Homo sapiens: one gene and its partners. Each later gene encodes a partner of the first gene's protein in a complex. Each region holds a gene or a part of one and is shown on either strand. Other genes may lie near its edges. A codon is read from its position in the direction of its gene.

The links.
Region 2: the proteins of PPP2R2A (region 1) and RBL1 are in contact, whole or in part, in a cryo-EM structure (PDB 9C6B), measured with the Homo sapiens proteins. Residues at the interface, in NP_002708.1 of Homo sapiens: Lys88, Tyr178, His179, Asp197, Leu198, Met222, Glu223, Glu224, Leu225, Thr226, Glu227, Val228, Ser247, Arg278, Ser279, Phe280, Phe281, Ser282, Glu283, Ile284, Ser287, Tyr337 (codon at 1,849), Phe343 (codon at 1,867); in NP_002886.2 of Homo sapiens: Ser615, Pro616, Leu617, Met618, His619, Pro620, Arg621, Val622, Val625, Arg626, Ser629, Leu632.
Region 3: the proteins of PPP2R2A (region 1) and IER5 are in contact, whole or in part, in a cryo-EM structure (PDB 8UO5), measured with the Homo sapiens proteins. Residues at the interface, in NP_002708.1 of Homo sapiens: Glu91, Ile92, Glu93, Glu94, Asp116, Tyr178, His179, Asp197, Leu198, Met222, Leu225, Thr226, Glu227, Val228, Thr230, Ser247, Phe280, Phe281, Glu283, Ile284, Ser287, Cys334 (codon at 1,840), Tyr337 (codon at 1,849), Glu338 (codon at 1,852), Asn339 (codon at 1,855), Asp340 (codon at 1,858), Phe343 (codon at 1,867), Lys345 (codon at 1,873); in NP_057629.2 of Homo sapiens: Ala7 (codon at 4,287), Arg9 (codon at 4,293), Ile10 (codon at 4,296), Ile13 (codon at 4,305), Ser14 (codon at 4,308), Lys17 (codon at 4,317), Arg25 (codon at 4,341), Gly26 (codon at 4,344), Lys29 (codon at 4,353), Leu30 (codon at 4,356), His31 (codon at 4,359), Lys32 (codon at 4,362), Leu34 (codon at 4,368), Leu35 (codon at 4,371), Val36 (codon at 4,374), Leu38 (codon at 4,380), Val39 (codon at 4,383), Leu40 (codon at 4,386), Arg41 (codon at 4,389).
Region 4: the proteins of PPP2R2A (region 1) and PABIR1 are in contact, whole or in part, in a cryo-EM structure (PDB 8SO0), measured with the Homo sapiens proteins. Residues at the interface, in NP_002708.1 of Homo sapiens: Phe84, Leu87, Lys88, Ser89, Leu90, Tyr178, His179, Asp197, Met222, Glu223, Leu225, Thr226, Glu227, Val228, Tyr337 (codon at 1,849), Asp340 (codon at 1,858), Phe343 (codon at 1,867); in NP_612206.5 of Homo sapiens: His81 (codon at 2,633), Ser82 (codon at 2,630), Ser83 (codon at 2,627), Arg84 (codon at 2,624), Leu85 (codon at 2,621), Ile88 (codon at 2,612), Lys89 (codon at 2,609), Glu92 (codon at 2,600), Arg99 (codon at 2,579), Glu100 (codon at 2,576), His103 (codon at 2,567).

The regions. Positions count from the first base shown.
Region 1 is NC_000008.11:26,364,503-26,371,523, forward strand, and holds part of PPP2R2A (serine/threonine-protein phosphatase 2A 55 kDa regulatory subunit B alpha isoform), read left to right. Parts: intron 1-1,812; coding exon 1,813-1,904; intron 1,905-5,631; coding exon 5,632-5,911; 3' UTR 5,912-7,021. UniProt on the Homo sapiens protein: Substrate-recognition subunit of protein phosphatase 2A (PP2A) that plays a key role in cell cycle by controlling mitosis entry and exit. Involved in chromosome clustering during late mitosis by mediating dephosphorylation of MKI67.
Region 2 is NC_000020.11:37,085,987-37,093,007, forward strand, and holds part of RBL1 (retinoblastoma-like protein 1), read right to left. Parts: intron 3,137-7,021; coding exon 3,003-3,136; intron 1-3,002. UniProt on the Homo sapiens protein: Key regulator of entry into cell division. Directly involved in heterochromatin formation by maintaining overall chromatin structure and, in particular, that of constitutive heterochromatin by stabilizing histone methylation.
Region 3 is NC_000001.11:181,084,635-181,091,712, forward strand, and holds the start of IER5 (immediate early response gene 5 protein), read left to right. Parts: upstream 1-4,065; 5' UTR 4,066-4,268; coding exon 4,269-5,252; 3' UTR 5,253-7,078. UniProt on the Homo sapiens protein: Plays a role as a transcription factor. Mediates positive transcriptional regulation of several chaperone genes during the heat shock response in a HSF1-dependent manner. Mediates negative transcriptional regulation of CDC25B expression.
Region 4 is NC_000009.12:68,775,065-68,783,037, reverse strand, and holds the start of PABIR1 (PPP2R1A-PPP2R2A-interacting phosphatase regulator 1), read right to left. Parts: upstream 2,974-7,973; 5' UTR 2,874-2,973; coding exon 2,010-2,873; 3' UTR 1-2,009. UniProt on the Homo sapiens protein: Acts as an inhibitor of serine/threonine-protein phosphatase 2A (PP2A) activity. Inhibits PP2A activity by blocking the substrate binding site on PPP2R2A and the active site of PPP2CA.

The DNA of each region.
Region 1 (7,021 bases):
GAACAGGGTGAGGGACAGCACAAACCTGTGCTAGGCCCTAGACTGCAGTGTTGAAATCACTTAACTCTAATTTATACATATACTTTCTTTATGTTATATATTCTCAATAGACTGGGAAGTATGTTTCTCAAACTTTAAATCCTCTGACAAACATAAACGAAGATTGTTTTTGATACGTGAAATTTCAAAATAAATACTGCACTGAAACAAAAGACAAAATACTGCTTTGCTTTTCAAAGTATAGTTCACTATTGAGCAACATGGATTTGAACTGCATGGGTTCACTCATACACAGATTTTTTGTTTTGTTTTGTTCAACCAATGCACATTTGAAAATACAATATTTGAGGGATGCAAACCCCTCAAATATATGGAGGGCCAAAACTTCACGTGTGGGTTCCGCAGGGCTAACTGCAGATTTGGGTATACCTGGGGTTCTTGGAACCCATCCCTCGTGTATACTGAAAAAAGACTTCTATTTGTGTAACTGCCAAGATTGATATATCTCCTAGTTACCCTCACCATCATTTCATTCCCATTGAGAAGAATTGATTTGAAGCTTAGCTTCATACTGATGTATAGTGAGAAACTCTATAATGTGCATTCTAAAATGTTGCTAAATTATGATAATCTACCTAATTTTACCTGATTTGCTACTTTTCTACTTATAAACAGTTGGAGTAGTGATTAAAAGTAGTCACATTATAGGCAAATGTATCATATATAGATAAAACTATTTTTATTGAATTTGTACCAGCATCTTGCCAAGTTTTGTGTGATTGAAGGGTATTTTTTTCTTACTGATTTTTTTGTGTTACATGCTCACTTTTGATCCTAACCCCACATGAGTTGCTATTCCTCTGTATTACAGATTTTCACTTAATGTCACAGAGACATGGCCTGAATCATTCCACTATATTTAAAGTTAAAATAGACACTGAAAATAAGTTTAGATTGTTTCATATAGAATAGAGAATTCTAAGCATTTAGAAGGTACCTTCTCATTTCTGTCATTTCTCCTTAAGTAGCTCCTTAAAAAGAGATGGTGAAATATAGACACTTCCTTTTTTCCTTTGAGTTACAACAAATACTTTGGAACTTTTGTTTGTAATTAATATTAATGTTGAAATATGTCATATTTCTCAGACTTTTTAAATATGAGATTTCTAGTTTATCCTTTTTTGACATATTAGTAAATACAGAATTATATAATTCAAAAAACAGGCACAGCTTTGTTAGCTTTTGACATTGTATAATATGATACTATCAAATTTTTAATAATATATGCCCAGAATAACCATATAATTTATCACCAAACCAAGGCATGGTTACGCTATGCATACATGTGCATTTATAATGGAAAATATAGGCTTCAGTTAAATTTATGCCCAGAAAATGGTATTTAAGAAAGAAATAGGCACAGTTTCAGTGTTGTTATCAGTAGTTAATGGACTGAAAGCCAAGAATAGTGATATTCAGATATTGCTATAATGTTCTTTTATTAGTCTCTTAACTGTGCCATTTTCAAGTGTTTTTGGCCTGAATGTTTTATTCAGGCTTATAAAGGCTATGTGTGCCATGCCCAGAATGGAGTTTTCCTTTGTCATACCAGTAGGAAAATGTACCTCCCTGAAGGGCTTGTGTGTTTTGTAAAAGGACAAAATGCCTTTATTGTTACTGAGAAGATTGAGATTAATAGGTTTAAAAGGTGTGTGTATGTGTCTGTATATGCCCTTTTTTTCTTTTTAAAGATATGGACTTGTTAAATCATTTTCCTAATTTCAGTGCAGTATATTTGTATTTTTCCCCCAGGTGCATGAATACCTCAGAAGTAAACTCTGTTCACTGTATGAAAATGACTGCATATTTGACAAATTTGAATGTTGTTGGAATGGATCTGACAGGTAATTAAGTCAAACCTCTCAAATATGAATTTTATTAAAGAAAAGAAACAACTATTTCATTCCAGGTCCTAACTTCGTCTCTAGGGATTCCTTGAAATAAATTTAGTAATTTTAGATATAGCACAGCAGTACTGGTAGATAAAAAATTAAAGCATTGTATTTCACTAGTAAATATAAAAGTACACAAATTCTAGGTAATCTAAATTATTTAAATGTCTAGAATTTTTTTTCTTTTATGAACCAGATCACATTTCTGACATGCTAACCATTAAAACGGTGAAGCTTCAGCTTGGTTGTTATTCTTCCATTAAACTGTTGCAGAAACATTCAGGCGGCAGATAACTCATTTGGATTGTTAGAAACACCAGGTTTTCCAGATGCTACATTAACACCTCATAGAAGTGGTCTTTCATATGTATGTTATGTATGATGTTAACCATAATATATATGGTTAAAATTTTAGTAGTAGTTATCCTTTGCTTTTTATAATTTCCAGTTTTGCCGTAGTGTAATTCCTTTTTCGTATTCATTTTTAGTAAAATGTTACCCATTATTTAAAGATAAAATAAGTCTTACTTTGAGTCTTTTAGTTGTCTATTTGCCACTATGTTCCAGTAGAACAGAAAGTAGTAAAACATAATTTTGGAATTAAACTGACATTTAAAGTAATCAGAGATACTTCAACAACAGTTTTATCACAGAGCTTAATATGATTCCGATTTCATGGTGTTGTGTGTTACAGAGGATAATAGAACTTATAGAATGTTTTCTTTCATCTGGCTTTTAAAATTATCTGATTTTTGACATAAGGACTAGTAAACCTAGAGTTCTGTTAATAGCAAACATTGCCTTTGAGTGCTACTACTAAACCTGAGGCATCAAGAAGAAAGAAGGAAAGGGAAGAAGAAAAAAAAGATTAACAAATTTGAAGAGTAAAGAGATACTGAAATAAGGTGTGGCGCACAGCTACAACCAGTTTTTCATTGTATTTAAGCAGATAATTAGCAGTTTTATGTTCTATTATCAGAAAAAAACGATTTGTTTTCCTTAATATTAAAAATTTTTTTTTAACTATTTCAAACTTAGAGAAAATTTGTTAGAATAACACAAAGAACTCTTGGCTGGCCTTGACCCAGGTTCCCCTGTCGCTGTTTGCTGTATCACGTGTTCTATTCTCTGTTTATTTATAGCTATATTTGTCCACATAGGTACGTGCGCATGTGCTCACATGCAACTTGTGTGCCACATGGGAATTTATTCCATTTACGCCAGATGTGATGCCCATAACCCTAAATTCTTGAATGAGTATTTCCTGACAAAAACACTTTCCAACATAGTGACAGTGCAGCATCCAAAGCAACATTCACAGCGATGCAGTACTGCCATCTAATCCGGAGACCCACTGAAACTGACCAGTTACTGTAACTATGTCCTTTATGGCACAGAACAAAGTCAGTCTGGTTCAGTATCCAGCATTTAGTTGTCATCTCTTGTTAGTCTCCTTTATTCTGAAACAGTTCCTCAGTCTCTCCTTGTCTTTCATGACCTTGGCATTTTGAAGAACACAGGCCAGTTATTTTATAGAATGTTTCCTCATGATTAGATTCAGGCTATACATTTTTGGCAGGAATACCACAGAAATGCTGGCCTAATGATACCTTTTTAAAGTTTCAAGTAGCCACAGCCTAGGTGTCCTAATACATTAAAACCACGCAAACTCAGATGATATGGGGATGTCAATCTAAATTACACAAGCCATTTTTAAAGAAATACAGTTTTGTCATCTTCAGGGGCACGCATTACCTTGAGTTTGATTAAAGTTGTTGCCAAGTGTCCTTTGGGAATTGACATTACTAAATAGATAATAATTTGTACTCAGTAGGTGACCTTTGTATGTAAGTATTACTTTGAACAATTCCCCAGTATCCTGTAATCCTTATTTACAATAATAATTTGAACCATTGGTAAGCAGCGGTAGCAGACCCTTTCCAAATTAAGAGCTTCAAACTTACGAAGTTTTGTTTGTGAGGATACTTAATAAATGTCGAGCAGTAATGGGTGGCAAATAGAACTGACAAGGAAGTGTCTTGGGCAGTTTAAAAATTTTGCCACCCCTTTAAACTGATACTTTTATAAATATTTGCTTAAAATGTTCTAAGTGGTAAAAGTAAAATGATGTTCTGTTAAGAAAATATTACAGCCTGGGCAACATAGCAAGACCCTGTCTCTACAAAATATTTAAAAATTATCTGGACATGGCAGCATATGCCTGTAGTCACAGCTACTCAGGAGACTGAAGTGCAAGGACTGCTTGAACCCAGGAGGTTGAGGTTGTGGTTGCAGTGAGCTGTGATTGTGCCACCACATTTCAACCCGGGTGACAGAGTGAAACCCTGTCTTGAAAAATACATATATATAGGCCGGGCACGGTGGCTCACGCCTGTAATCCCAGCACTTTGGGAGGCCAAGGCCGGCGGATCATGAGGTCAGGAGATTGAGACCATCCTGGCTAACGTGGTGAAACCCTGTCTCTACTGAAAATACAAAAAAAACTAGCCGGGCGTGGTGGCGGACGCCTGTAGTCCCAGCTACTCAGGAGGCTGAGGCAGAAGAATGGCATGAACCCAGGAGGCAGAGCTTGCAGTGAGCCGAGATCGCACCACTGCACTCCAGCCTGGGCAACAGAGCGAGACTCCGTCTCAAAAAAAAAAAAATTATACACACACACACACACACATTATGTACCACTTAATATTCTCAGGAGCAGATTATAACATAAGCATTTATTAAATGTGATTATCTGAACCAGACAATACCCTGAGAAGATTATTTATTTATGAGACAGAGTCTCACTCTGTCACCCAGGCTGGAGTGCAGTGGCACAATCTTGGCTCAGTGCAACCTCCGCCTCCCGGGTTCAAGGGATTCTCCTGCCTCAGCCTCCTGAGTAGCTGGGACTACAGGCACGTGCCACTACACCCAGCTAATTTTTTTTTTTTTCCGAGACGGAGTCTTGCTCAGTTGCCCAGGCTGGAGTGCAGTGGCACGACCTTGGCTCACTGCAAGCTCCACCTCCCGGGTTCACACCATTCTCCTGCCTCAGCCTCCCGAGTAGTTGGGACTACGGGTGCCTGCCACCACGCCAGGCTAATTTTTTTTGTATTTTTAGTAGAGACCGGGTTTCACCATGTTAGCCAGAATGGTCTCGATCTCCTGACGTCGTGATCTGCCCACCTTGGCCTCCCAAAGTGCTGGGATTACAGGCGTGAGCCACTGCGCCCGGCCCAAAAAATGTAAATCATAAGATAAAGCATTGGTTTCTTGTGAACAGCTACAGCTACTTCATGCGGGGTTCTTTTGTTTTAGAACCTGTGAGTTCCACAGATAGTTGCTCCTTTGAGAAGCTGGCTGGCCTGGTTGATCACATAGCCTGTAGTTGCAAAAATACTTAACAACGATAATTCTGCACTCCTAAGAAGTTTTACTTGAGGATGCTGTCAACTTTGCTGATAGTTTTGGTAGCCATAAAAAGAATAAGCAGAAAACCCAGTTAATTAGTACCGTATTTCTGGTTTATTCTAGTGATTGAGTTGATGTCAACAGCCCCTGTCCCTTAGTTTAAATCTGCTTTTGAAGTAGCTTCCTATGGTTTAATTGCCGAATCATTTTACTTGAAAACAATTTCTTGTTCTGCTTGTTTGACTGAGTGTACTGTCTATTTTCACAGTGTTGTCATGACTGGATCTTACAATAATTTCTTCAGAATGTTTGACAGAAACACAAAGCGAGACATAACCCTAGAAGCATCGCGGGAAAACAATAAGCCTCGCACAGTTCTGAAGCCTCGCAAAGTCTGTGCAAGTGGCAAGCGAAAGAAAGATGAAATAAGTGTTGACAGCCTAGACTTCAATAAGAAAATCCTTCACACAGCCTGGCACCCCAAGGAAAATATCATTGCCGTAGCTACTACAAACAATCTGTATATATTTCAAGACAAAGTGAATTAGGGTTGGCATTCCTAGCAGAAGAACCCACTTCCTGCTTAGTTGAGATAGTTGAATCTAGCATTCGTTCCTATAAAAGAGAGAGGTCCATTGTGGCGCCCCTTTCCAGTGTTTGACAGTGTGCCATTCGACAACACATTGTTATAGCTACATGGAGAAAGCTCTGTGGATTCATCACTGTGGTGTTCTCCATGTCTGCTAGCCATTTAGGTAAGGGTAGGGCACTTTTAATTTAAATGACTTCTTGCACCATCTTGCCTAATGGACTAGATTGGACTGTATCAACATTGATTTACTCCACTTTTTATGCCTTCCATTGTGATGACGTCAAACACAGTGAAAGCCTTCAGTCATGCTATGGGATTTAATTGTGTATCCTCATTACTGTATCATTTGTGGGGTACACCCCTTCCCCCTTTTTTTAAATTAAATACAGCTCATTCTTACTGTGGCTTGTAGCATTCCTCCTCTTCTGGCCTCCTGGACTGCTCCCCTTCATCTCTTACCCTTGCCCCCTCCACCCGGTCTTGGTGGTGGTATATTAAAAAAAGAAAGAATGAAAGCACACAAAATGAGTCAGTTTGGGGTCAGTGGTATAAAGGGGGTATATGTTGCAAACAAATGTTTTAGTAACAGTTGGCTGTAATCACTCCTCGCCGTGTCTGGCACTGAAAATAAGGAAAAAAAACCTACTACTGAATAAAAGTGACAAAGAATGGAGAATCTGGTTTTCTTTTTCTTTTTAACCTACCTCTTGTAGCCAATATTTTGTGTCATACCTTTGGGCACAGTGAAACAAAATGGGTTTTCATTGTTTATTGGTATTTTTGTTAATTATTTTTAACAAGTGTTCTTTTACATGCAGGAGGAGAGGTATTGGTTCTCTATGAACATATTTTGAATATAGGTTTTATTAAGGATTTCACAATCTATAAATGCTACTAGTTTTTTTTTTTTTTTTTACCATCATGAGGGTATTGGATACATTGTGTCTCTATTTAACTCATTATGTGTTAATGAAATTGTTGTAAATGGGAACCAAATTTGTAGAACTTAATTTCTACTTTTTAGAGTGCTTAATTTCATTTTTGCCTTACTAAATAGTCAAAGACT
Region 2 (7,021 bases), on another chromosome or scaffold:
CCAGGCTGGAGTGCAGTGGCGCTATCTCAGCTCACTGCAACCTCCACCTCCAAGGTTCAAGTGATTCTCCTGCCATGTACTGCTCTACATTTGTTTTGTTATAATTCTTTTTTGTTTAGTTCCCCCAGAATCTGTCATTACAAAGATTTTTGAAATTATATGAACAATGACAAACATTGACAGAAAAAGATCAGATTGTTTTATACTAACAATGATAATGTCTTGCTCAATTAAAAAATTAACCCCATTGATCTTCATTTAATTTTTATCATCTTATTTTATTTTTAGAACCAAAGTTGTTTAAAAACATTTTTTTTAGGCTGGACACGGTGGCTTACGTCTATAGTCCCAGCACTTAGGGAGGCCGAGGCGGGTGGATCACCTGAGGTCAGGAGTTTGAAACCATCCTGGCCAACATGGTGAAACCCTCTCCCTATTAAAAATATAAAAAATTAGCCAGGCGTGGTGGCGGGCGCCTGTAATCCCAGCTACTGGGGAGGCTGAGATCAGGCCATTGCACTCCAGCCGGGGCAACAAGAGCAAAACTCCGTCTCAAAAAATAAAAATAAAAAAAAATTTAAATTTAGCATCAACTAAAACCTATTTGCCATTTCTGAATAGGGCTTTAAACTTTGCTCCTCTTCTATTCTGGAAACACAGGAATAGCAAATAGACAATGACCACAAATAGTTTTGTCCCAGAAACAAAGAATATTAGCATGAATCCAAACTGGATAGCTAAATTTGTTTTGTTTCCTATCCAGCCAAATAATTCTATATGCTTGATACTAGAGTAAGTAAAAGATGTATCTGAGACCCATAGAGTAGCTGCAAGGTGAAAAAAATTAATATACAGTAGAGAAATAGGACAACATCTTGACCAGATGACAAAAATTAACATCACCAATGAGATGCAGATGGATAACACATGCCATCATCAGATGTGATATCCTCAGGAGACAAAATCACTTATACAGTTTTCCATCAGGGAATGACTAACCTGCATCTAATCAAAAGTTAATAGGAGACAAATCCAAAATTGGGAACCATCTATTAAAAGAGGGGATGAGGGTGGGCACAGTGGCTCACGCCTGTAATCCCAGCACTTTGGGAGGCTGAGGCAGGCGGATCACAAGGTCAGGAGTTTGAGACCAGCCTGGCTAATATGGTGAATCCACATCTCTACGAAAAATACAAAAATTAGCTGGGCGTGGTGGCACATGCCTGTAGTCCCAGCTACTCAGGAGGCTGAGGCAGGAGAATCGCTTGAACCCGGGAGGCGGAGGTTGCAACGAGTCCAGATTGCACCACTGCACTCCACCTGGGCAACAGAGTGAGACTCTGTCCCAAAAAAAAAAAAGGCTGAGGCAAGAGGACCACTTAAGGTCAGGACTTTGAGACAAGCTTGAGCAACATAGTAAGACCCTGTCTCTATAAAAAGATTTAAAAATATCAGTCAGGCATGGTGGCACATGATTGTAGTCTCAGCTACTTGGGAGGCTGAAGCAGGAGGATCATTTGAGCTGAGGAGTTTGAGGCTGCAGTGAGCTAAAAAGGTGCCACTGCACTCGAGGCCTGGGCAATACAGCAAGACTCGGCCTCTAAAAAAATTTTTTTTAATTAAAGAAAGGGACAAAGTGATTGTGGATTATATTCTTCAAAAATGGTAATGTCATAAAAGAAAAAGAAAGGCTGTGGAAATGTTCCTAATTACAGAAGAATAAATAGACATGATAAGCAAATGCAATACCTGATCCTTAATTAGAAATTGTACTTCCAGGAAAAAAAATGCCATAAAGAACATTATTGAATCAACTAACAAAACTAGAACAGAGTTAGCAGGTTAAATAAAATTATTTTATCAGTGTTAATTTTGCTGAAGTTGGTAGCTGTACTGTAGTTATTTAAAGAAATACACAGTGAAGTATTTTGGGGTAAAAGGCTACAAATGTATGCTACTTAGACTGAAATGGTTGAGGATAAAAAGAGAAAGATCTGGCTGGGAGTGCTGGCTCACGCCTGTAATCCCAGCATTTAGGGAGGCTGAGGCGGGTGGATCACCTGAGGTCGGGAGTTCGAGACCAGCCTGACCAAACATGGAGTAACTCCGTCTCTACTAAAAATACAAAATTAGCCAGGCGTGGTGGCACATGCCTGTAATCCCAGCTACTCGGGAGGCTGAGGCAGGAGAATCGCTTGAACCCAGGAGGCAGAGGTTGTGGTGAGCTGAGATTGCACCACTGCACTCTAGCCTGGGCAACAAGAGCAAAACTCCATCTCAAAAAAAAAAAAAAAAGAGAGAGAGAGAAAGATCTATATATTGAAGAAAGAAAAATCAAATGAGAAAGCAAATGGGATAAAATGTCAATAACAGGTGACTCTGAGTCAAGGGTATATGGGTATTGTCCTTTTCTTATTTTTGTAACTTCTCTGTAAGCCTAAAATTATTTCCAAATTTTAAAAAATTAATTTTAAAAAGTATAGCTAAAGATTCAACACAGAGGTTTCTAGCAGAATTTGAGAAAGGCAGAGAAAGAATATGAAAATTGGGAAAGGATTATCTATGTTATAACTTAGAATTAAATGAAGTCACACAGTGGCTCACGTCTATAATCCCATAGCACTTTGGGAGGTTGAGGTGGGTAGATCATTTGAGGTCAGGAGTTCGAGAACAGCCTGACCAACATGATGAAACCCCATCTCTACTAAAAAAAAAAAATACAAAAAATTAGCCGGGCTTGGTGGTGTGTGTCTGTAATCCCAGATACTCAGGAGGCTGAGGCATGAGAATCACTTGAACCCAGGAGGCAGAGATTGCAGTAAGCCAAGACTGTGCCACTGCACTCCAGCCTGGCTGGCACAGTGAGACTGCGTCTCAAAAATAAATAAATAAATAAATAAATAAAATAAAAATTAAATGAAGTCAAATGATCTCAAAACAAGAGAAAACTGATTCCAAAATTTAGAGCTTATATAACATTTAAAAACATCAAAGAGGTTTACCTTAATTTAGCTGAACGTAGTATTCTGGTAAGTGAAACACAGTTGCCTTCCATGATACCCTTTCCAACCGTGGGAATAATGCTTTTGCGGCATGCAACATATAATGAACATGCCAACCAGTGTGTAACTTCTCCCTGGCAAGCAAAAGACAAACAGCAAAACAGGTATAATATTATGTTAAAATGCTTTAATTCTAGAAACAAGAGATGTAGAATTATCTGGTCTCAATTTTCCTTATGTAGATAAAGGGCCAGAGAAGTGAAGATATTTGCCCAAGGTCACAAAGCTGTTAGTTGCAGTAATGGGTATAAAACTCCTTACTCTTAGTTCTGTGTTTTTACAACTATAACATGCTAAATTAATATTAATCTAAAGATAAAAGCCTGGCTTGGTGGCTCATGTTTGTAATCCCAGTAACTCGGGAGGCTGAGGTGCGAGTATCACTTGATGCCAGGAGTTTAAGACTAGCCAGGGCAACGTAGACTCTAAAAATGAAAATAAAAAAATTAGCCAGGCATGGTGGTGCTTGCCTGCAGTCCCAGCTACTTGGGTGGCTGAGGCAAGAGTATCGCTTAAGCTCAGGAGTTCAAGACTGCAGTGAGCTATGTTTGTGCCACTACATTCCAACATAGGCAGCTGAGCGAGATCCTGTCTCTTAAATCCTGTCTCTTAAAAAAAAAAAAAAGAAAAAAACTCTTTCACCTACACTCCAAATCTAATACAGGCATATGCCACATAACATCTTGGTCAACACTGGACCACATATACAATGGTGGTCACTTAAGATTATAATACTTGCCAGGCGCGGTGGCTCATGCCTGGGAGGCTGGAGCGGGTGAATCACTTGAGGCCAGGGGTTCAAGACCAGCCTGGCCAACATGGCAAAACTCCGTCTCTACTAAAAATGCAAAAAATTAGCTGGGTGTGGTGGCATGCACCTGTAGTCCCACCTACTTGGGAGGCTGAGGCAGGAGAATAGCTTAAACTCGGGAGGCAGAGGTTGCAGTGAGTAGAGATCGTGCCACTACAGTCTAGCCTGGGCAACACAGGGACACTCTGTCACACACACAAAAAAGATTGTAATACTGTATGTTCTAACTGTTCTATATATTTAAAAAATTATAATTTACTGTACCCCTTTTATGTTTAGATACACACATACTCACCATTATAGTTGCCTATAGTGTTCAGTACAGAAACATGCTGAACAAGTTTGCAGCCCAGGAGCAACAGGCTATATTAAACAGCCTAGGTGTATAGTAGACTACACTATCTAGGTTTGCATAAGTATACTCTGTGAAGTTCACACAACAAAATCACCTAATGTTGCATTTCTTAGACCATGTCCCTGTCATTAAGTGAAGCATGTCTGAATTACCAGAAGAGTTTTATTAAAATTTGTCAGCATGACTTTCTTGATTTTAAGAAATGGCCTTGATGATCCTGAAGTTTCTATCGTTTTTGCTTTATGTTTCTCTTTAGTGTGGCAGGGAAAGGCAAGAACAGAGTAAAAAGTTGGCAAGGGAGTCACACATAAAAAATTAATATTAATCTTACGCAACATGAAGGAGACTGTCATTTTTGTAAGGTAAACATTTGGGGATTTACCCCAAAACATGTCATCTTTAAAATACAGTCATATGCATTGCTTAATGACAGGGATATATTCTGAGAAATGCAACATTAGGCAATTTTGTTGTGCAAACATAGCATAGCCTACTAAACCTAGGCTATATGGTATGCTTATTGTTTCTAGGCTACAAACCTGTGGAGCATGTTACTATACTAAATACTGTTGGTAAATGTAACACAATAGTAATTATTTGTGTATCTAAACACAGAAAACATATAGTAAAAATAAAGTATGTGTGGTCCATCACTGACTGAAACATTCTGCAGCACACGACTGTAGTAAGCACGGCTCTTTATATTAGTAGATATCTCAATTTACAATGCCACAAAAAGGTGACATTTGGGAATTCAACAATTTTCTGCATTAGACTTCAGACATCTCCAAGCTAGAATCACTTCATGACTTCACTGCTGAAATACAATAGCTGAAGTTTAAGGATTAAGAATTACGGATAGGCCGGTGCGGTGGCTCACGTCTGTAATCCTAGCACTTTGGGAGGCCGAGATGGGTGGATCACCTGAGGTCAGGAGTTTGAGAGCAGCCTGGCCAATGTGGCGAAACCCCGTCTCTACTAAAAAATACAAAAATTAGCCAGGTGTGGTGGCGCACGCCTGTAATCCCAGCTACTTGGGAGGCTGAGGAAGGAGAATCACTTGAACCTAGGAGGTGGGGGTTGCAGTGAGCCGAGATCACGCCACTGCACTCCAGCCTGCGCAACGGGAGTGAGACTCCATCTCAAAAAAAAAAACAAGAATTACAGATAAAGGCCAGGCACAGTGGCTCATGCTCGTAACCCCAGCACTTTGGGAGGCTGAGGCAGAGGATTGCTTGAGCTCAGGAGTTCAAGATCAGCCTAGGAAACATAGTGAGACCCCCGTCTGTACAAAAAAGGAAAAAATTAGCCGGGTATGTGGCACGTCTGTAGTTAGAGCTACCTGGGGAACTGAGATGGGAGGATCATTTGAGTCCAGAAGGTTAAGGCTGCAGTGAGCTGTGACTGACCCACTGGACTCCAGCAAGGGTGAAAGAACGAGACTCTATCTCAAAAAAAAAAAAAAAAAGAATTACAGATGTAAATCTGATAGCACAACACAATAGTGTTCTTATACACTGTTCCACAGACTGTCTTTAAGACCAAACCCTAGAAGGATAAAAAGATTGATAAAAAGATTTCTTGCAATAATCTAAAAGGGGTGGGTAGAAATGGGTGGCCATCAATAAACCCAATGTTCCTACCCTGAAGGAATGAGAAGTCTTTTCTCAAAGCACTAAATGAGGCAGGTAAGCTTAAAGATGAATATTTTTACAAGCTTTGATTAATGAATTGCTTGGGAATAGGGTCTGGTCATGGTGGCTTACGCATGTAATTCCAGCACTTTGGGAAGCTGATGTGGGTGGACTGCTTGAGTTCAGGGGTTCGAGACTAGCTTGGGTAACACAGCAAAACCCTATCTCTACAAAATACAAAAAAATTAGCAGGACGTGGTGGTATGCGCCTGTAGTCCCAGCTACTCTGGAGGCTGAGATGGGAGAAGTGCCTGAGGCCCTTTTTTTGTCTCAAAAAAGAAAAAGAGAAAGAGTTGTTTGGGATTAGCATCCAAGTATTATAGAGCCTTTGGATACAGGCTACTAAATGAAAATTCTAGCAAGATGGTGAAAATATAAGTCCTAAAATTATTGTTTCGATTTTTTTAAAGACATTAAAGAATACACTGATTTTTATTTTACTTTTTAAAACAGGGTCTCACTCTGTTGCCCCAGGCTGGAGTGCAGTGGTACAATCAGGGCCACTGCAGTCTTGACTTCCCAGGAATGAGGGCCACTGCAGCCTCGACCTCCCAGGCTCAAGCAATCCCCCCACCTTAGCCTCTGGAGTAGCTGGGACTAAAGGCACATGCCACCACACCCAGCTAATTTTTGTAGAGATGGGGTTTCACCATATTGCCCAAGCTGGTCTCAAACTCCTGGGCTCAAGTGATCCACCTGCCTCAGCCTCCCAAAATGTCGGGATAACAGGTGTGAGCCACCATGCCCAGCCTATTTTATTTTGTGTAGAGATAGGGTCTCACTATGTTGCCCAGGCTGGTCTTGAACTTCTGGGCTCAAGTGATCCTCCTGCCTCAGCCTCCCAAAGTGCTGGGATTATAGGTGTGAGCCACTGTGCCTGGCCTGACTTTCTTTCCTTAAAAAAGTCAACTATTTTATTCCATGAGAATAAAATAGAATACAATTCTATTTGATAAAATCCTATTTCATAAAAATTCTATGAATTCTATGATATCAGAAACCATTTTTTGCATTTCTAAGGCCTACTTGCCAGGCCTTAGAAATACAAAAAATGTTTTCTGATCTCACAGAACTTCACATCTGGAGCTAAGAAGAGGAA
Region 3 (7,078 bases), on another chromosome or scaffold:
CTGCTTTTTTTGGTAGGTGGAGGTGAAGTTTCCTGATCATACGAACTCGGGCCCTCCAGACATGAGTTCTAAAGGTTCCATTTCGTTGGCTCAGGATCAAAGAAAATCCTGATAATGACAGTGATAATGTGCAACTTGCAAGTCATCAGACATTTATTAAGCACCTATTATGTGGTACAGCAGAAAAAGCATTAAAAATTCAACAAGTACTAAGAGTGTACCTACTATGTGTTCAGAACTGTGCTAGGCACTGGTGTGATAACAATAACCATAATAACAACAATAACTAAGAATTATAAGTGTTTATATGGTGCTAGGAACTGTACTAAGCAATTTAGTTATTTTTATTATTCCCATTTTTCACAGGAGACTGAGGCACAAAGAGGTTAAATAACTTGCCTATATAAGCAAACTAAAATATGGATTTCCCATTTCACCTAGAGGTGAGATGACTTTCCAAAGGTCACACAGCAGTGAGAAGAGGAGCCAGGCAATCTAGCCCCATGACCCCACATTGGAGCTTTAAGTAGGTTAAATGTAAATGAAGATAATGATATCTACTTTCAGAACTTTATAAATGTGCTAAATAATGCATGTACTATGTCTAGCACAGTGCTTGGTAAACATTATTATTATTAGGAATTCATTAATCCAAGTGTATAATCACTCAGTATGCACTGGTACAGCCAACCCAGTTGTTAAAGTATTGAAATGTTTCCATGTCAGTTGATAGAACCTCTGCCCTAAGCCCGTGAGTAGCCCCCTTACTGGCCATGCAGCCCCTCTTGCAGGAGCCCTCCAAACCCCTAGCATTGTAAGGGCCTCCAGGACCCTGTTCTGATGGTTAGTGCCTGTACTGCACCAGCTGTTATGTATTTTCACCATATCCTGGCTACAAATATGAGCTGGGCTCCTGCCTTCAATGAGGGCATAGTCTGGGAGGGACACTGGGCATGACAGGAGAAAGTGATGAGGGCAATGATGAAGGAGTGTGCTGAGTACAGTGGTGGATGATGGAAAAGCTCAGCTCAGGCAGGTCAGAAAGCCTTCATGGAAGGCAAGAGGCTTGACACTAGCAATAACCTGCCTGGATGGGTGAGTGGGAGCATCCCAGATCATCACTAAAGTTCTTTTGTCTCTCAGTTTCCTCATTTTTTTTTTTTTTTTTTTTTTTTGAGATGGAGTCTTGCTCTGTCACCCAGGCTGGAGTGCAGTGGTGCGACCTCCGCTCATTGTAACCTCTGCCTGCTGAGTTTCAGCAATTCCCCTGCCTCAGCCTCCCAAGTAGCTGGGATTACAGGCACGTGCCACCATGCCCGGCTAATTTTTTGTATTTTTAGTAAAGACGGGGTTTCACCATGCTGGCCGGGCTGGTCTTGAACTCCTAACCTCGTGATCCGCCCACCTCGGCCTCCCAAAGTGCTGGGATTACAGGCATGAGCCACCATGCCCTGCCAGTTTCTTCATTCTTGTTGCCTCCACCTAGTTCAGGTCTTCACAACCCTTTGCCTAAATTTCCACAAGAGCTTTATGTGTGCTCTTCTATGCACCAACTGTTCTAGAATCTATTCTGTGCTTCCCTTACTGAACAACCTTTAGTAAGGTCCCTGTGGTCCTATCTCCTCATCAAGGCACCCACAACCCACTATCATGCAGCCTCGGCCTCTGTTTCTAGCCTTTCCCACTTGCTTTTGGGCATGTGCCCAGCACAACTGCAAAGTAAGATGTTCCCTACACTGGACTCTGTTGCTCCTGCTGCTTGGAACTTGTGGATCCTACCTCAGAGGTTTTCAGCACCCTCTTCAGATACAACTTCTTTGGTGAAACTTTCTCCCATCTATGTTCCTTTCTTCTCCCAGCCTCTTCTCCCACCCCAGGGTAGTATGTGGGGTAGTGTGTTCTGAGAACTAGCCTACATTGATAGCTTATTATATGCCAGGTGCTGTTCTATGAGCTTTGCATGTGCTACCTTGTTCTACCCTCACAAAAACTCTAAGAGGTAGGCATTATTATTATTATATTTATATTTATTTTATTGTATTTTTTGAGACAGAGTCTCACTCTGTTGCCCAGGCTGGAGTACAATGGTGTGATCTCGGCTCACTGCAACCTCTGCCTCCTGTGTTCAAGCAATTCTCCTGCCTCAGCCTTCCGAGTAGCTGGGATTACAGGCACCTGCCGCCATGCCAGGCTAATTACTGTATTTTTTTTTTTAGTAGAGACAGGGTTTCACCATATTAGCCAGGCTGGTCTTGAACTCCTGATCTCAAGTGATCCGCCCACCTTGTCCTTCCAAAGTGATAGGATTACAGGCGTGAGCCACCACACCCGGCTGATTATTTTGTAATAAAAAAGACGGCAGCACAGAGAAGTGAAGTAATTTTCCAGAGGCCATGCAGCAAGTGAAAGGTGAAGCTGGGATTCCAACCTAGGAAGCCAGCCTCCTCAGCCTGTGCTCTTAGCCATTGCTTTATAGTGACTAATAACTTGCAAAGAAAAAGAGAAGAGAAAAATTCTTGTGTCATTACTCAATATATGCTATTTGGTTTTGTAATTATTCGTGTCATTATTTTATATCTTCCTCTACGTGGGCTGAAAATTCCTAGAGGGGAGGAACTCTGGGTCTCAGAGCCTGCTGTCTCAGTTACCATCAGTTGTGGGCACAGGTAATGCTATTGAGCCATCACATCCTCTGGAGATTGTGAATTGGTCATGATCAAGCCCACTCTTCACTGGTATTTTTCCTAAATAAATTCATTGCTTGACCAACCCCGGGGCAGGATCAGGCCCAGGGTTCCACATGGACTCCAAGAAAGCAGTGCTTAGTTTTCTCATTCAGATTGTGGCTGAGAAGTTGTCATTTATCGTCTGTACAATAACGCAGATGTGTATGTGACTTCCCCCTTTTCAGCAGTGGAGACACTGAAGCGGCCTGAGGTTATTTACCCAGAGTCCTCAGGCAGGTCTGTGGTGGAGCTTCGGTGGAACTAACTGGAAGTGACTCCATGTTTCCAGTCCAGGACCCTGGGCAACCCCGTGGTAATTGTGTCCTGATATACTTATAAGGACCAGTAGATGGACTAAGTTGTTGACTGACCAGAAAATTCTGGAACTCCCTAGCACTATATTTTTACCTTGACACGAAATGAAATTATGACATCATCATGGGAACACAGGACTTCTTTCTTTTTATTTTCAGAACTTGCTCGATTTTTCCAAGGGTGGACTGGTCAGTCCTTGTAATGGAAAAATGGAAATGGAAAAAAAAAAGGAAAAAAAAATCATTGTGGAGAACCTGTAACATCTTCCATTTAACTTATTTGATAACTGGGTTTGTTCTAGAATCTAGAGAACAAAGTGAAAGATGCCAGCTTTAGAGGACAACCAATAACTTTGTATCTAGACACGATTCCTTGAAAAGAAGCCAAAAACCTAGGCAAAAACTTTTAGAATCCCCCTTTTCTTTGGGGTTAGAACTGACAGCTGCTAAGAGTGTATGTGACTCTAGCGGGGAAAGCGGCTCATCCAAAAATAATGATTGCCAAATACTTTGCAGTAATACTATTTGTTATCCAGGGGTGTCCTCCGCCGCGTATGGCCACCATCTCTATTTTTGCCAGGGTTGAGGGGGGTCGCTTACAGGTGTGGCCGGCCTGGAAACGGTGGTGTGGCTGGTGAGGGCGGAGTCGATCAGGGAAGGATCAGGACTTTATGGCAGAACAGAGTCCACCACCGTGTTCGGAAGAAAGTTCGAATATTTTGTTCGCTTTGGTTCCGGCAAGCCATCGCACAAGCCAGAATCTGTAACTCCAAACAGTAGCGCTCTCGAGCACCGTCCCGAACATTCACTCCCCACGGGCCTGGTCTGCGGCCGCAAGCCGTCGCCCCCTTTAAGAGCCTGCTCCGCGGGACTAACGTTCGAACGGGCCCTGGCGCCCCTCCTCGGGCTCCGATTGGCCGTGCGCGGCGCACGAGGGCGCGCCGGCCAGCCCCGGAACGGTTGGCGGCCCTTCGTGATTGGCGGTCGAGAAGCCTATATAAGGCGCGGGGCAGCCAGGCTGCCCTGTTTAGCGACCGGACCCGAAACGGGGAAGTTGTCTTGTTTGGAGAGGTTAGTAGAGCAGCGCGCGCGTCACCAGAGTCGTTTCTCTTCGGAGTCTTAGGTGATCGAGGGTGTGCCCAGGGGGCGGACTTGTTTGCGCCTCCCGTTCCCTCCCAATTTCCAAACGTGTCACCCCGGCGCCGACGGCCCTGTGCAGGGGAAGCAGATGGAGTTCAAGCTGGAGGCTCATCGCATCGTCAGCATCTCTCTGGGCAAGATCTACAACTCGCGGGTCCAGCGCGGCGGCATCAAGCTGCATAAGAACCTCCTGGTCTCGCTGGTGCTGCGCAGCGCCCGCCAAGTCTACCTGAGCGACCCGTGCCCCGGCCTCTACCTGGCCGGTCCCGCTGGGACCCCGGCGCCGCCACCGCAGCAGCAGCCCGGGGAGCCGGCGGCCGGGCCACCCGCCGGCTGGGGAGAGCCGCCCCCGCCCGCCGCTCGTGCCTCTTGGCCGGAGACCGAGCCGCAGCCGGAGCGCTCCTCCGTCTCAGACGCGCCGCGGGTAGGGGACGAGGTGCCGGTGGCCACGGTGACTGGAGTCGGGGACGTTTTTCAGGGCGGAGAGGCGGACGCGACGGAAGCTGCCTGGAGCCGCGTGGAGGGGCCGCGCCAGGCGGCGGCCAGAGAAGCCGAGGGTACCGCCGGAGGCTGGGGCGTCTTCCCCGAGGTATCTCGTGCCGCGCGCCGCCCCTGCGGCTGCCCCCTAGGCGGGGAGGACCCGCCGGGTACACCGGCCGCGACCCCCCGCGCTGCCTGCTGCTGCGCGCCGCAACCAGCGGAGGACGAGCCCCCCGCGCCGCCCGCGGTGTGCCCCAGGAAGCGCTGCGCGGCGGGGGTGGGCGGCGGCCCAGCGGGCTGCCCGGCGCCCGGCTCGACCCCGCTCAAGAAGCCCCGCCGGAACTTAGAGCAGCCGCCGAGTGGAGGAGAGGACGACGACGCGGAGGAGATGGAGACCGGGAACGTGGCTAACCTCATCAGCATCTTCGGTTCCAGTTTCTCGGGACTCCTACGGAAAAGCCCCGGGGGCGGCAGAGAGGAAGAGGAGGGAGAGGAGAGCGGTCCGGAAGCCGCCGAGCCCGGGCAGATCTGCTGCGATAAGCCGGTGCTGAGAGACATGAACCCCTGGAGCACAGCCATCGTGGCCTTCTGAGCCCTTGGCCCCCCTGCGGGGAGGAGGTGGAGCAGCGGGCGTCCCCGAAGTGAGGGCCAGGCCCTTCCCGGCTGCGAGGACGCCCAGAGACCGCGGGCGCTGAGCGCGTTGGGCAGACTGGTTGCCTCTGGGCATCGCAAACTGCCCCCGGGCGCATCTGGCTTATCTGGAGACCTGGGAGCTTGAGGCTCATTGGAAGAGGACGATCGTTAACTTTTGTGTTTGTGTATGTCTGTGTATGTAAGTTTGTCTTGTGGCATTAAGACTATTTTGCTCTTCTGGAATGCACCACTCCTTCCCCAGGGTTTAAGAGATTGGGGGCAGACAGGGACTTTCCTCTGCCGGCTGCGTGGAGAAGGAAGCGGCTAAAAGGTTTGGGCCGGGGAGTTCCCCATTCGTTCTCCGGGGAGGGAGGGACTTTACACCTACCCCTCACCGGAAAGCTAGACCCGCTTCAGGGCCAGGAGTGGCGTTTCCGCACAGGATTTCCTAAGACGAGAGGGATTTAGCCAAGAGCACAGACTTGGATTCCTTCTGTCCCTCCCCACCTTTCTCTCCCAATGAAGAAACGTTTATATCCTGTGATTACTCTAGGAAAGGGGCGTATTAACGGTCCTTTGCTTCCCCGCAGGGGAGAAAAAGCTTGACGAACTTCACAGAAGAGTTCAAGCTTGGAAATAATGGAGTTTATAGAGAAAAGATATATTTTTAAAAGCTCTAGGTCAGAAGTACTACACAGTGCTTTTAAAAAGTGTTTAATGAGAGTTTACAGACAGAAGCCCGAAGTGGAAAGACCTTATGGTTTTGTAGATATGGTGACTCCAGTCTTTGTTGTATAAAGGTTGGGGGAGCTGATAAGGTTTTTGTACAGTATTTTCTCCTTCGTTGTATTGATTTTTGTATAAAAATGTAACTTCTACGTGTCTAACACGTATTAAATATTTTGAAGCAACGTAACTGCCTGCTTGTCTGTAATAACCTGCCTGGGTTGGGAGGGAAGTGGGAGGAGGGAAACCAGGGCCTGAGCTAGAAAATTGAAGGTGTGGTTCTTAGTATCAGTCATTCGCAGACTGAGGACATTGTTTACTGACTCCACTAAGTATCAAGAGAGACACGTTTAATTTTTCCTCCTAGATCAGAGGACTGCTATTAGATACTAATATCGGCGACCTGTCAGGTTCTAGAAACCTGCCACTACAACTGCCTTTTCTAAGGTCAGTTTAGACCAATTTGTCACCCAATATGTGGGTGTCTAATACTAAGTAATTTAACCAACTTTTGAAGCCCCGCTTATCCACAAAAATGTTTTTCAGCAAAACTTTGTTTCCTGTTAAGCTATTAATACGGGTCATCTTTTAGCTTTGTAATTGAAAAAAAAAAAGTTTAGATAGTAGTTTACCTTAAAAGCCCATTCGAACTGACATAGGAAGATGAAAGAGACTGACTTGTCCAAATTGTCAGGTCCACCTCTGCATCACAGTGGATGTCAGGATGTAAATTTTCAGTTTTTCTCTTACATCTAGAAAGTAAATATATTGCTGAGAGGGAAATTGTTTGCATCAAACCAGATAAGGAAGGAGGGCTAGGCAAATTTAGTTCTCATTTAGCAAAACTTCCTGATTTGTTTTGTTACTTAAATGGTGACATCAGTGTTTGGTCATGGTAGACACTTAGGTGATGATAGCCAAAACATCCATCGATTTTACTAAAATCACTGCCATTAAGAGAGTTTTTTGTCTCTTCATGTTCAATGTTTGAAAGGTATTCAGTAATCTATTTCAGAAGCAAATCAATTAGGGAATGGTGTTTATTAAAATACGGTACAG
Region 4 (7,973 bases), on another chromosome or scaffold:
TCAGGCAAGAACTTAAGGCAAAATCAGGGGCAACAGATAGAGAAGGGAAGAAATTTGAGATTCATTTCAGAAGTTGACAGGACTTGGTGATTAAGCTAATCCAACAGAGAAAAGGAAAAGTCAAAGATGCTTCCATAGTTTCTAGTTTAGGAAATCAGTGATGACATCAATTGAGCTAATGCAAGAACAGGTGAAGTGAGAAGATTAACAATTCCTGTGTTGAAGATAATGAAGTTCAAATACCTCTGGAGGCAGGGCAAGTTACCCAACAAGAAGTCAGGCTATTTAAGTTTGAATTTCAACAACAGGGTCGAGAATGGGAGCACATGAACACTATTACTCAGAAGAGAGAATTTTAAACCTGTGGACACAGTCTTACCCTCGATGCAATTTCACTCCATCTTGAGGCAACTGTCAAGAGTTGACCAGTTCCATTTACTCTCATAGTTGTAAAAATTCCACAAAATTGTTAAAGTCTCTGTAAGCGATAACTTTAAACAGTCAGAGCTTTTGTCTTGTTCTGAGTCATTTTTCCCCTTTCCTCTTTGTATGCCATTCTTTCTGTCAAACTATCTAGTTAAGGAAGATATGTGAGGTATAAGGATGCATAATATAAAAAAATTTTTGCTATTCTTATTAAACATTTTGTCTTAATTGTAAAGGTAAAGAAAAGAACATTCGACTATTCTAACTTTAGGAAAACCTAAGTTAAATAATGATTTACCTATGTGACTCTCCACTAATTTTCTCTTGCAAATCATCACCCCTTAATTAACTGACATCCCCAAGGCAGTCAACTCAAGCTGTAGCTTTAACCACAGAGGTTAAACAATTCACAGTCCTGTTGTTGCTGTCAGAAACCCAAGTTACACTGTACCTTTGTCTAATCAATGGTGCCCTAGTTTGGTGGGAGATGGAGAGGAAGGGACCTGTTGGCAAGGAAACAGCTGCTTCCTTCCTGAACAAGGGAAAACCAGTAAGGTGACAGATGGGCAGAGCAGAAAAGTAGCCAAAAATTGCTGTGGCTCCTGTTTGGCAATAATTTCTGGAACTGAGGCACAACTGAATATTTTAAAGTATATCAACAATTGAGAGAGTATTGTTTACCTGAGTGCGCCAAAGTTCAACAAGCCTTCCCACACGTTTCCCACATTTGAAAAACTTTTAAGTTTGCAGTAGTACAAAGAGCTTAGCCTTAGCCTATGTATAGTGGGCAAAGACTGCAAGGCACTGTCCCATTTCACTTTAGGATTACACCCAAGCAAATGCACTTTCCGGTTAAAAAAAAAAAGGAAAAAATTTTATTTTCTCTATAGTAGTTATAGTTGTATGACTGACTAGAATTACTATTAAAATCTCATTAAAAATGTTTTTCTTAAAAGTTTACTTTTATATACTTAATTTGAAAAGATTTGTTCAAACTTTTATAATTTGTTCTTTAATCATTCCCCCTCCCATCCACTTCAGTACCCAGAAAACTAAATATCCAAGAATTCCTGGGTAAAACAGACAACCACTAGATAGATATAACTAACGTATTTTTTTAAGCTGTATAGTTCTTCATCAAATGGAAATCGGCAACCACTGAAAATAACATTAAAAATTAGTGTGGGCATGAAGTATGGAATTTTAAACATCAGTTTACTATGCTGATTAAGTCAACATTTATATTTTCATCAGAACTTAATAATCCCATAAATAAATAGAGCTCTCAGTTATTTAAAAAAATCAAGGGATAACATATGTATTTAGACATATTAGCAGCGTAAAGATGTATGCTTCAACACACTTATTGGGGAAACGTCTGAAAATATTACTACACTGAATTCAAGGGTATCCAAAGGAACCTGACATAGAAGTTCTCTAGAATAACATCATTTCAGGGAATTTCAAAAAAGAAAAGGGGTCAAATAGGAAATAGCCTCAAATTAATTGACAAAGTTCAGTGTTTGCCCCAACTAGATTATTCTCTCTCTCCACTGCAAAAAGAAAGTCTCAGGATGAGTGAATCACTTAGACGAAAGTTCATCTAGTGGAATAAATGGAGAAGCCGCTTGGGCAGGTGACACAGGAGAGTCGGTGGTAGTGCTGACTTTCGCTGGTGAGTTACAAGAAGATCCGGCACTGCTGCTGTTTCCATCAAGGGTATCCGAAGATACACACACACCAGGATCTGACAGCTGTGCAACGTCAGAAGAAAGCATGTTGGTGATGCCCTGGAAAAATCTCTTTGGCTGATATTCAGTTTCCATTTCACATTTTCTTTTCAATGGTCCAAGAACACTTGGTCTAATGCAATTGATGGGGCTCTGGCTTCTCCGGGTGGTAAATCGGGTCGTTGGGCTGGGAATAGGGCTTGGAGGCAATCCGTTGCTACTTACAAAACTTTGCAAGGATGGCGAAAAACACTGCTTCCCAATTCCCCGAGTGGGTGACGGTGCTGGTGACACAGGAATGAAATCGATGCGCTTGGGGGAGGCGGATTTCTCCACGTCGTTGTCACTCAGGCTGAAACTTTCCTCCCAGGAGTGGCTTATCTGCATTGCGGTCTGCACCTCCCGTTCGTGGACCGTCTCTCGGTTGATCAAGTCCATGCCCTCTTCTTGTTTGATCTGGTGCAAGCGGCTGCTGTGCATGCGGACAGGGGAGGCCGGCAGCAGCAGGCCGTGGCGGCTCGGGAACGTTGTGCTGTTCCGCCTGGCGCTCGGCGCCTCGGCCTGGAACACCGGCGAAGTGTCACTGAGGCCGTGGATCAGGGGGGCGCTGTTAGACCTCCTGAGGCCCCCGCCGCCGCCGCTGCCACCGCCCTCCGCCGGGCTCCCGCCCGTACCCGGAGGCAGCTCCAGGTCTAGCTCCATCTTCTCCTGAGCCATGTCGGGGGCAGGGAGGCGGGGGAGGTGCTCAGTCAGGGACCTAGGATTCCCATTCCCCGCAGTCCAGGGCCGCCGCCGCTGCCGCCGCCACCGAGAATCTGTCAGCGGGCTGGCCCCTCTGCGCATGCGTAGCCCTTCGCGCAGGCGCTCGCGATGTCCGTACTCGCGGCGCCTGCTTAATGCGTAATATGTGCGCGGCAGTGGTAGGGGAGGGGCGAGGAGTGGTCGGGCCGCTAGTCCGTATATTCCTTCGGCAAATAGCTATTGAGCGCAAGCTCGCGTTGACGCATGTCAATAAGATTGTCATATTCTGGATTGCATACTCATAAAACAAAGCCCTGAAAGAGAGGCCCATGGTGATGTGGGGCTGTATGACGTGGAGTGGCGCTTGGCCTAATCAGGGAGGGCTTCCTCGAGGAAGGAACAATCTCCTGAAATCTGAAGAAGTGGGCGAAATGGGTGCGATGTAGAACTTTGCAGGAAGCGGGAAGCAACGGCTACCCAGCCAGTTGGCAGGCGGGAACCAGGAGGGGAGGAGAAAGTGTGGCCTGGAGTGGAGAGTGAGGGCTGGCCTGACGTGAGGTGGTGGACCAGACCACATTCTGGTCTTTATCTTGAGAACAATGAAAACTTAAAGGGTTTTCAAGCATGGGTGTAACAGCAACTGAAAAGCTCACTGGCCTGCAGTCTGGAGAATACATATTGGGAGATTAAAACCTTACAGAAAAAAGGCCAGAGAGGATGGTCATTTGCACTAAGGTGACAGTGTGGCAGTGGAGATGGAGAGAAAAGTAAATCTGAGAACTATTTAGGTTAGGGGAAGAAGCCAAAACAGAGGATGGTATTGCTATTGATTTACAGTCATAGTTCCAGCACAAGCATATGTGTGAAGTATGAAGGATTAAACCAGTAGGTCCTCACATTTTAAAAATGAAACCACAATTCTTGGCTCATGTAATTAATATAAAACCTTGATATCTCATTAAAAGTGAGTTTATTTGTTCATTTATTCAGTCAGTCAAGGTTTTTTTTTTTCAGCATACTTACTATGTGCCAAACACTGCTAGGAAATGGGCCCTAGTATGAACTTTTAATTCTTACTGAGGGGAAAATAGAGAAACGCAGGCTATTTTCAGATAGTGGTAAGCCTTAGGAAAAGTAAGATGGTGTGATGGAGCACTACTGATAGAAGTCAGGGGACAATTAGAGTTGAGATCTAAATGACAAGAAGCAGTAAGTCACGTGGACATCTGGGGAATGAGTATTCCAAGCAGAGAGAATAGCAAGTGCTAAGGCCGGAGGCAGCCATGAGTTTGATGAGTTAGCAGAAAAAGAAAAAAGGGCAGTGCCGCTGAAGCATAAGAGCGGGAGTGTTAGGAGAGGGTAAGAGTTGGATCTCATTCTGAATATGATGAAACGCCACTGGAGGGTTTTAAGCAGGGGACTGATATTATCTGGTTTATGTTTTAAATATCACTTAGGCTCTGTGGAAAACAGGCTGAAAGAAGACCAGAGTGGAGGCAGAAGGATGAATTCAGGACCTATGGCAACAGTACAGATAAGATTCTTGGACTAGGGTTGTAGCAGTGTCAATGGGGAGAAGCAGAGAGACTGAGGATATGTGTTGAGTTAGAACAAATAGGATTTGCAGATGGATTAAATTTAGATTGTGAAAGAAATAGATTATTCGAAGGGGACTCATAGCTTTTTTTATTTAAACTGGTGAGATGGTAGTATTATTTACTGAGAGAGGAAAATAGCACATTTAGAGTTGTAGAAATTAAGAGATCTGAAGCAGAAGAACACAAGGTGGAAAGAACCAACATTTTCTAAGTGCCTACTCCCTGCTAGGCACTTTAAACACTCCATAATCCCACTTAATCCTCACTGCATAGATATTGTTATACTCATTTTACGAAGGAACGATTGAGGTTCAAAAATTGCAAAAGGCACTACAGCCAGTACACGGAAGAACAAAGATCTGAACCAATTTGAATCAAGGACTCATTTCAAAAACCTGTATTGTTTTTTCTGAATTTCACATGGATTAAAGAGAGAATTTCGCATGAATTAGAGAAGGATGGCTAATTCTGAGACGAAACAAAGGTCTAAAACCAAAGTTGGGAAAGGCAGAAGGAGATGGATTTGGGAGACAAGGCAACAACAGAACCTAATAGCATGCTGTGCAGAGGATGAACAGGAGACACAAATGACTGAAGTTCAACTGTAAGTGGCTGAAAGAATGCTACAAATTATTCAATAAAAACAGGAGAGAGGAGGAAATGTCTACAAAAAAATTAATATTAGGTAAGTAGAAAAGAACATTAAATATAGAACTCAATTTATAATACCCACAGCATATTACTGTTAACTTCATATTACTACATTATTATCAATGTGGCTCAAATGTACCAGATATTGTTCGTCCATGTCTGGATAAACATAATAATTACCTTTACTAATAAAACACAAGGATGGTGATGAGCCCACAAAATAAAACATATATGCTATTTGGTTCTTGCCTGAACACACCTATTAGAGATCTTAGCTGGTTTCCCAGTTTCTACCCTTGTCCTTGTAGAGCTGGGGACAGAGAATTGACTGAGTCATGTATGATTCAGTGCTTTCAGGTCCTGGCACAAATATTAATACTGATGGAGAGGCTTTCATAACTGTTCCTTATAAAAAGCAATTGCAGTTCTCAACACCAAGTCTACATTTGCATGCCCCTTACTCTGTTTTTATTGTCCTCCGGAGTACCACATGACATATATGTATACATTTTCTTGCCTGTTTCTTTGCTGAGAAAGTAAGCTCTACAAGGGAAAGACCTTTGTTTTGTTCTCTGTTATATGCTTAATATCTAGAACAGGGCCTGGCACATTGTACTGAGTAAGTACTTGTTGAATCATTGTGTGAATGCATGATAATGAATGAAAGGATGGATTAATATAGCTTTGTCTAAAAGGGAAGAGAACTCTATTATTTGAAAATCCAGTCTAACAGGCTTTTCTACACTGATTCTAAGAGCTCTATACCTTGATATATTTTTTAAAGATCAGGAATATTATTATTATTTAGAGTGCCCTCCAGCCCATGCAGGTGTGTTACTGGAACTACCCATTATGTGACCTAAGAAACTGAAGCCCTAGGTTTTCTTTCTTTTTCAACGATATGCTAATAAAAATTTGATAGAATTAAAATGTTCAGCACTGAGGATTCTAGGCAGTGTTTAATATATTGAGTTACTACTTCCTTTCGAAGGAATCAAGGACAAATGAGAGAAAATAGCAGCCATAAAATGCAATGTAGCCAGCTGCAAATGAATAATGCCAGAGGCAGGATCCAAGGAACCTCCCTGGCTCATTTCCCCCTTCCGGTTTCACTCCCATGAATTAAATACCACACTTAGTCAAGATTCATTCTCACTGTGAAGCCACAAAACCAGACATCTATTCCACAGTTAAACTTTATTGTGATTAATATTAGATTTTTAAAATATTACTTATATTTTAAAAAATATTACTTATTTTTAGGTTAAAAATAAATAGTTTAGGGCCAGGCGTGGTGGCTCACGCCTGTAATCCCAGCACTTTGGGAGGCTGAGGTGGAAGCATTGTTGAGTCCAGGAGTTCATGACCAGCCTGGGCAAGAGAGAGACCTCATCTTATAAAATTAAAATAAATAAATAGCTTAAAAATGACCATAACAATATCTAGAATTGGGACAGAGTCCCAATCTGATATCTAATTTATAAGATCTCAATGAGGAATAAGTGGAACTAGAATGTTTAAAGTGACTAGCAGGGAGTAGGCACTTAGAACAATATTATTATTAGATAGTTTTCTTTTAATTTCTGAGGGCAATTTTTCACTATTAAATTTCCAAATATATGACAAGGCAAATTTCTACCTCTGAATCCAAATTGAATGAATGTAAAATACAAAAATGTGTGTATGTATATAATCTAAGATGGGCTGGCAAATACCTCAATGTTCCACGTTAATTAGCATCAACAACCTACAGTAAAAATACTGCAGAAAAAACTGTGCTTTAAAACCATAGGAACTTAGGGTTAACTGTTACAACCACTTAGGAAAAATATTTTGCTGTACCTATTAAAAGAAAATATATTTATAGCCCACGACTAAGGAATCCTGCTCCTGACAATATAACCAAGAGAAATGAGGGCATCTGTCTACTAAAAGACATGCACAAGAATGTTTCTTGCATTATTATTATTATGTGTAATAGCTCCAGACTCAAACAACCATAAACAGTTTAATTATACAATGGAACTCTTTACCCAACAACATGGATGAGTTACAATATAATGTTGAATGAAAGAAATTAAGTACAAAAGAATACATACACTATGACTTCAGTGTTATGAAGTCCCCAAACAGCCAAAACCAACTTAGAAGTCAAAATAAGTAGTCCCCTCCTACCCACAGTTTTGGTTAACCTGTGGCCAACGTTGGTCCAAAAATATTAAATGGAAAATTCCAGAAATAAACAATTCATGAGTTTTAAATTACATGCTGCTGTGAGTGAGTGCCATGATGAAATCTGGTGCCGTCGCACTCCATCTGACCTGGGACATGAATCATCCCTACAACCAGTGCATCCATGCTGTCTATGCTCCCTGCCCATTAGTCACTTAGTAGCCATCTCAGTTACCAGATTGACTGCTGTAGCAGTGCTTATGTTTGAGTAACTCTTATTTTACTTAATAATGGCCCCAAACACAACAGTAGTGATGCTGACAATTGTAATATGCCAAATAGAAGCTGTAAAGTGCTTCCTCTAAGTGAAAAGGTGAAAAAAAATATGCTGAGATTGCTAAGATCTGTGGTAAGAACAAATCCTCTATCCATGAAGTTGTGAAGAAGGAAAAAGAAATATGTGCTAGTTTTGCTGTTGCACCTCAAATTGCAGAAGTTACGGTGACAGTGTGTGATAAGTGCTTAGTGAAGATGGAAAGGGCATTAAATTTGTGGGTGGAAGACATGAACAGAAAGCATTCCAATTGATGGCAATGTGTTGCATCAGAAAGCAGTAAGCCTATATGAAGATTTCAGCAAGGGATCCCCTGAAATG